2 linked regions of the Homo sapiens genome follow. The protein of the gene in region 2 purifies or fractionates together with the protein of the main gene of each other region. This does not show direct contact. Each region holds a gene or a part of one and is shown on either strand. Other genes may lie near its edges.

Region 1 (3,650 bases), on a different chromosome or scaffold from region 2:
CCTCCTGGATTCAGGTGATTCTCCTGCCTCAGTCTCCCAAGTAGCTGGCATTACAGGTGCGCGCCACCACACCCGGCTAATTTTTGTATTTTTAGTAGAGACGGGGGTTTCACCATGTTAGCCAGGCTGGTCTCGAACTCCTGACCTTAGGTGATTCACCTGCCTTGGCCTCCCAAAGTGCTAGCGTTATAGGCGTGAGCCAACACGGTCAGCCGGACAATTTTTTAAATCAATAATTCATCCTTTAGCAAATATTTATTGAGCATCTGCTATCTACCAGGCACTGTCTAGTCACAAATGATTGCAGTGAACAAAAAACCAAAAACTCCTCTCATGGTGTTTATATTTTAGTGGGGACAAACAATAAATCAGGGAAAGGAAAGTATATTGTATGTGAAATGATGGTAAGCATTAAGGAGGAGGTTATTTTTATTTTTACTTTTATTTGTTTTTTGATAGAGATGGGTTTTCATCATGTTGCCCCGGCTGGTCTTGAACTCCTGGGCTCAAGCGATCCGCCTGCCTTAGCCTCCTTAAGTGCTGGGATTACAGGCGTGAGCCACTGTGCCTGGGCCTAAAGAGGAGTTTAAAGCAAGAGGGAAATAGAGAATGTGAGTGGGGATGGGGTTACAAATGACTTGATCCTGCTTATGTTTTAAAAGGGTCATTCTGGCTACCATGCTGAGAACAGACTATAGGGAGACAAGGACAGAAACGGACCAGTTAGGAGACTTCCTGTAATCCAGGAGAGGGTGAGAGCTAGACCAGCATGGTAGCAGCGGGAGTATGGGGAGAAGTGGTTGGATTCTGGATATATTTTGAAGGTCGAGTCAAAGGGATTTGCCAATGGATTAGACATGCAGTGTGAGAGGAGAGAGGGGAGTAGGGTTTTTGGCCTGAGAAATGAGAAGAATGGAGTTGCTGTTTACTAATACAGATGGGGTAAAGGTAGCTGTGGGGGGCATATCAGGAGCTCAGTTTTGGAACGTTTATTTTTTATTTTTGTTTTTTGAGACGGAGTCTCGCTCTGTCGCCCAGGCTGGAATGCAGTGGCGCCACCTCGGGTCACTGCAACCTCCACCTCCCAGGTTCAAGCAATTCTCCTGCCTCAGCCTCCTGAGTAGCTGGAATTACAGGCACCCGCCACCATGCCTAGCTAAGTTTTGTATTTTTATTAGAGACGGGGTTTTGCCATGTTGGCCAGGCTGGTCTCGAACTCCTGACCTCAAGTGATCTGCTCACCTCGGCCTCCAAAGTGCTGGGATTACAGGTGTGAGTCTCCATGCCCGGCAGGGAACATTAAGTTTAAAATGCTTATTGGACCTCTAGATAGAGATGTAAGTTCAGTGTACAGTATACACAAACCTGGATTTCAGGGCAGATGTTTAAACTGGAGATAAATTGGAAATTAAGAGTCGTCAACTTATAGAGGGACTAAATCTTACCCACGAGACTGGATGAAGTCACAAAGGCAACAAGTGTAGATACAAAAGGAATTGATGCGAAATGTCCAACAATTGAGCCCTGCAGCTCCAATAGTTTGAGAATGGGAAGATGAGAAAGAGCCGGTAAAGGAGACTGGAATGAGAAGCTAGAGGTAGGAGGAGGACCAGGAGCATGTGATTGGGAGCAAAATGTAGTGGGGTTTCAAGCATCAGCTGTGTGAAATGCTGCTGAAGGGTCCAATAAAGTCCAGCCTGAAAATTGACCTCTGGATTGAACACTGGAGAAGTCATTAGTGACCATGTTAAAAACAGTTTTGTGGCTGGGTGCGGTGGCTCACACCTGTAATCCCAGCACTTTGGGAGGCCAAGGCGGGCAGATCATCTGAGGTCAGGAGTTCAAGACCAGCCTGGCCAACATGGTGAAACCCCGTCTCTACTAAAAATATTTTTAAAAGGCCAGGCGTGGTGGCCCACGCCTGTAATCCCAGCACATTGGGAGGCCGAGGCGGGCAGATCATGAGGTCAGGAGTTCGAGACCATCCTGGCTAACACGGTGAAACTCCCGTCTCTACTAAAAAAATACAAAAAATTAGCCAGGCATGGTGGCGGGCGCCTGTAGTTGCAGCTACTCGGGAGGCTGAGGCAGGAGAATGGTGTGAACCCGGGAGGCAGAGCTTGCAGTGAGCCGAGATCGCGCCACTGCACTCCAGCCTGGGCGACAGAGGAGATTCTGTCTCAAAAAAAAAAAAATTAGCTTGGTGTGGTGGCAGGTGCCTGTAATCCCAGTTACTCGGGAGGCTGAGGCAGAGGTTTCAGTGAGCCGAGATCACGCCATTGCACTCCAGCCTGGGCAACAAGAGCGAAACTCTGTCTCAAAGGAAAAAAAAAACAGTTTTGTGGCTGGGCGCGGTGGCTCACGCCTGTAATCCCAGCACTTTGGGAGGCTGAGGCAGGCGGATCACCTGAGGTCAGGAGTTTGAGACCAGCCTGACCAATATGGAGAAACCCCGTCTCTACTAAAAATACAAAATTAGCCGGGCATTTTATAGGGAGGCTGAGGCAGGAGAATTGCGTGAACCTGGGAGACAGAGTTTGCCGTGAGCTGGGATCGCACCATTGCACTGCAGCCTGGGCAACGAGAGTGAAACTGTCTCGAAACAAACAAAAACAGTTTTGTGTGGAGCAGTGGGTGAAACCCTAACTGGAGAATGGGAGAAAAGAAATTGAAGACAGTGAGTCTATAGGTAAGGAAAGAAACAGTGTGGTATTTGGAGGGAAGAGAGGGGTAAAGAGACTTTTTTTTGTTTGTTTTGAGACAGAGCTTGACTGTCGCCCAGGCTGGAGTGCAGTGGTGTGATCTTGGCTCACTGCAACCTCTGCCTCCCAGATTCCCAGATTCAAGTGATTCTCCCACCTCAGCCTCCCAAGTACCTGGGATCACAGGTGCCCGCCACCACACCTGGCTAATTTTTGTATTTTTGGTAGAGACGGGGTTTTGCCATGTTGGCCAGGCTGGTCTCGAACTCCTGACCTCAGGTGATCCACCCACCTTGGCCTCCCAAAGTGCTAGGATTACAGGCGCGAGCTACTGCGCCTGGTGAAGAGACTTTTTTTTTTTTTAAACTCAAATAACAGCATGTGGGTATGCTTGTGGGAACGGTGGAGAGAGAAATTGATAGTGCAGGAGCAAGGGGAGGGTTGTTGGAGTGGTGGCCTGTACACGCGAGAGGGGATGGGATCCTGGGCCCAAGTGGAAAGGAAGTGCTTGCCAGGATCACAGACTCTTCACCCATAGCAACAGGGAGAAGGCAGGGACACGGAAGCAGGCAGGTGGGTGATGGGTGTGGGTGCTTGTGGAAGTTACATATTTATTTTAATATGCATTAGGTAAAATAACCATATCAAACCTGTCATTTCGTGGATGCTTTTGCAAAGTGGAGAAAAAATGTCAACTAAATAGTAGGGTGGTATGCAGATAAAATACAAATGAAGATCACACTTGAATGCCTGGAGTTTTGGGAAAAGCTATTCTGGGAAGTGGTCAGGAGGAGGATGTGTGAGACTGGAGGCAGGGAGAGGATCTGGGAGGTCATTTTTTATGGGCAAGAAATGGAGGTCTGAGCTGCGAATGGCTGTGGAGGTGGAGAGGAGCAGGCAGGAATGGAATTCAGGGTGCAGCGCTGCTTAGGCTTGGAGTAAGGGGCT
Region 2 (3,650 bases):
TGCAGTGGGAGATGGATCAGGACCGGGAACCTTTCTCTGCTGAGATGCCTGCAAACATCTGACACCACAGCACATTATTTGTACCCCACCCCACCTCACCCCACAGCCAGCTTTTCAGGGCCATAAACACTACATCGCTTTCCCGTTCCAGGCTCCGAAAAGTCTTAGATCAGGTCCCTGAGACCCCAGACAGAATCCAAGGAGCCTTCCCTCGGCTTTTGAATGGAAAACTTGCAGGGCATCATGGATGGTTTTTCTCATTATGAAAACAAGAAAGTCAGGGCAAAACTCACAGCCAGACACAGACTTCAGTTTGGATTCAGCATGGGGCTTTCTCCAACAATTGGTCAAACTTACCCCCACTCAAAAGTCCACTTTACTCTAAGTCAGAGAGGCTTAGGTATGAGGATCAATAAGGAGAGGTAAGTGGCAAAGGTCAAAGATTCTGACTCTATAGAGCTGTGCAGTCTAATATAAATTACATAAATAAATTTAATGTAATTCAAAATTCAATTCTTCAGTCATATTAGCCACATTTCAAGTGCTCATGTAATTGGTGGCTTAATTATGTTAGACTGTGCAGATACAGAACATTTCCATCATCAAAGAAAGTTCTATTGGACAGCACTAATATAAAGCATTTAGATGTTTCATTTGAAGTAATGAGTACGGTGTTCTGGGAAGTTCTGCTGCTCTCCCCTGGTTTGTTGGGGAGGCTTTAGGTGTTCTGTGGGATGCTGAATAGAGGGTGTGCATTTTCATAATGAAAGAAGCAGTGTGCTGGAATTCTCATGTAAACCCAAAAGTTCTAAGGCAAAACTTACAAGGCTACAAAGTGGGCCATCTTAGCCTGCATACGTGGACACACAGTCTTTCCACACTTTTGCTTTCATCACAAGGACCATAAAGTCAGATACTGTAACTATTTTACTGACAAAAAGCCCACATGCTGCCTAGTCCTAGGCAGAATCATTCTCGAGATCCCCTTGGCTGGTTGTAAGCATTCCCCGGCGTTACTTTCCAGTGCAGCATCACTGAAGAGAAAAATATCTCAGGTCAGGTCAGCACTCTGGACAGCGACAAGCTCCTTCCCAGTGTATTTCAGCACTCCCGTCTGCCCCAAACATCCTTCAGAAGGAACTATCCCCTCAGAAACCACCAGGTGCCTGGGAAGGGACTTCCCACCCACTTCTTCTAACACCACAATCTTGTTGTCTTCAGAACAAGAGAGTGTTCAGCTATGAAGCTTCAAATACTCCTCACCAATGCCAAAAAAATTCACTCCTCAGCAAGCCAAGGTTTGCTACAGTCTGGCCCCAGACCGCTTCTTCCACTGCTGCAGCCTGGCCAATTCACCATGCCTGACCACACTAGCTGTTTCCCTCTTCTAGCCCTTTGAGTGGGCACTCCTTTCCCCACCAGAAATGCCATTTTCTTATCTTTGACTGTTCAGGTCCTACCCATCTCTAGAGGCCCAAGCCAACCCCCACTTCTCTTCAGAACCTTCCCCAAAGACTTTAATCTACACTGATTTCCTCTGTTGTCTGACATCCCAAAGCACTTCTAGTTTAGATCATGCTTTAGAAACTTAATTACCTATCAATCATCTTGTATCATTACCAGGTTCCTATGTGGGTTTTGCCAGAACTAGCTTTTGCCAGCAACCAGCCATGCAGTCACAAGTCAGTCATGCCACACTTCTGAGTCATTTCTTGATTAGTAAAATAACTATCTTGAACTAAAACATTTCTAACATTTTTGAGTTTAGGTTTCTCTCAGAACAAGTTTCCACCTAGAAGAGTGCAATGCACATAGCAGGGTCTTCAAATAATAACTGCAGATGCAATGAATATCTTACAAAAACAAAACGAGGGCATATCCCAGGGCTGAGGCCAGCCACAGAATCCTGGTTTAGCTCCCAATGTGGATGACAAAGGCTTCAATTCCACTCAGTGTGTGATGATAATCGGAAAGATATCCAGTTTCTGCCCTGACCTACGTCAGCATAGAAATATCATCTATGGCCTTGGAGGCATTTTCCTCCATAAAGACATTCACCTCCAACATGTGGAAAAATACCACACAATAGGTATTATAACAATGGCAGTGACAACAATGTCTTGCATATAAATTTATCTTATATAGGTCAGCCAACACCTGACAGCAATGTACTAACTTCATTTACTAATTACACACAAGCCCAGACAGACTAGGAAAAGTAACAAGAAGCATAAACATTGGTGGTGCCCCCAAATAAAACTCTGGCTGGTCTCACGAGTCAAGATGTTCCAAGAATTAGGTGGCAGGGAGACAGACTTAAAATTTTACCTCAATATTACACCTTCTGTCAAAATGATAGATAGCTATAATACCTCCTCATAATTAACATCCTGTTATTCTCAAATAATTTGGCTTATGGTCAACACACAGTAAGATATAGGGGAGATTCTTCCACCTTTGAACAACAAAAAAGGCCTAGAAATATTTAATGACTTTTACCCTGCAAATAAAGATAAAACTAGAACCAGACTTAGTTGGAATAATTCTACTAACATAGGCACCACACACACACACACGCACACACAGACATACATGCACACACATATCCCAATACACAACTCAGAGAATTCTTAGTAATATAAAGAAAAGAGTGATGAAATTCTCTGACCCTGAAATTGGAGCTTTCACCAAATGGTTGTTTAAAATGCTACTGCCAAAGCAAATTGGCCAGCATCAGTAAAGAAAAAGGGAATTTTCATCACTGGGAAAAGTTCTTGGAATTGCTCTGCCAGCCATTCACTCTCATCCCAGAAAATCACAAGATCTGAGAACAAAACTTAGCATCTGATCAATCCACTCCAGTTGGCCCAAACTGGATCCAGGAAAGCTAGCTCAGCATGGAGGCCAGAAGTCTCCCATCCTAGAAGGCCTTTCCCAGAGCTGGGCATCGTACGTGCTCAGAGAAGCAAATCAGGGAGACAGCAGTGCAACGAGGTTAGAAGAGTAAAGACTAGCACTCAGGGTTCTCTATGATTTTTGTCTCCATATACTGCTCCAGACACACCCCTCACTACTGAATTACATGCACCCACCACCCAAACCATGCCATTTACCTTCATGAATCAAAGATCCTCTACATAGTCCTGCTTTTGCACATGATTTTTCTCCAGTAGTCCTGGAGAAAGTCTTCAAGTCTTGATATCTCAAGACCCACCAGCCGGGCGCAGTGGCTCACGCCTGTAATCCCAACACTTTGGGAGGCTAAGGTGGGTGGATCACTTGAGGTCAGGAGTTCAAGACCAGCCTGGCCAACATGGTGAAACCCCCATCTCTACAAAAAATACAAAAATTAGCGGGGTGTGGTGGTGGATGCCTGTAGTCTCAGCTACTTGGGAGGCTGAGGCAGGAGAATTGCTTGACCTGGGAGGTGGAGGTTGCAAGGTTGCAGTGAGTCAAGATCGTGCCACTGCACTCCAGCCTGGGTGACAGAGCAAGACTCCATCTCAAAAAAAAAAAAAAAAAAAAAAAAAGACCCACCTCAAGTACTTCCTCTTGCAAGAGGCTTTTCCAGATCACCCAAGCCCAATGTGATCTTCCATCAGCTTTCTAGAACTTACATTCTGGAATTAGCAAATATTACTTATATTTGG

Evidence for each region.
Region 1: the proteins of NFASC (region 2) and TBC1D10B fractionate together in Homo sapiens (co-fractionation; one large-scale study listed by BioGRID). This does not show direct contact.

Annotation. Positions count from the first base shown.
Region 1 is NC_000016.10:30,360,398-30,364,047, reverse strand, and holds part of TBC1D10B (TBC1 domain family member 10B), read left to right. Parts: intron 1-3,650. UniProt on the Homo sapiens protein: Acts as a GTPase-activating protein for RAB3A, RAB22A, RAB27A, and RAB35. Does not act on RAB2A and RAB6A.
Region 2 is NC_000001.11:204,835,094-204,838,743, reverse strand, and holds part of NFASC (neurofascin isoform 1 precursor), read right to left. Parts: intron 1-3,650. UniProt on the Homo sapiens protein: Cell adhesion, ankyrin-binding protein which may be involved in neurite extension, axonal guidance, synaptogenesis, myelination and neuron-glial cell interactions.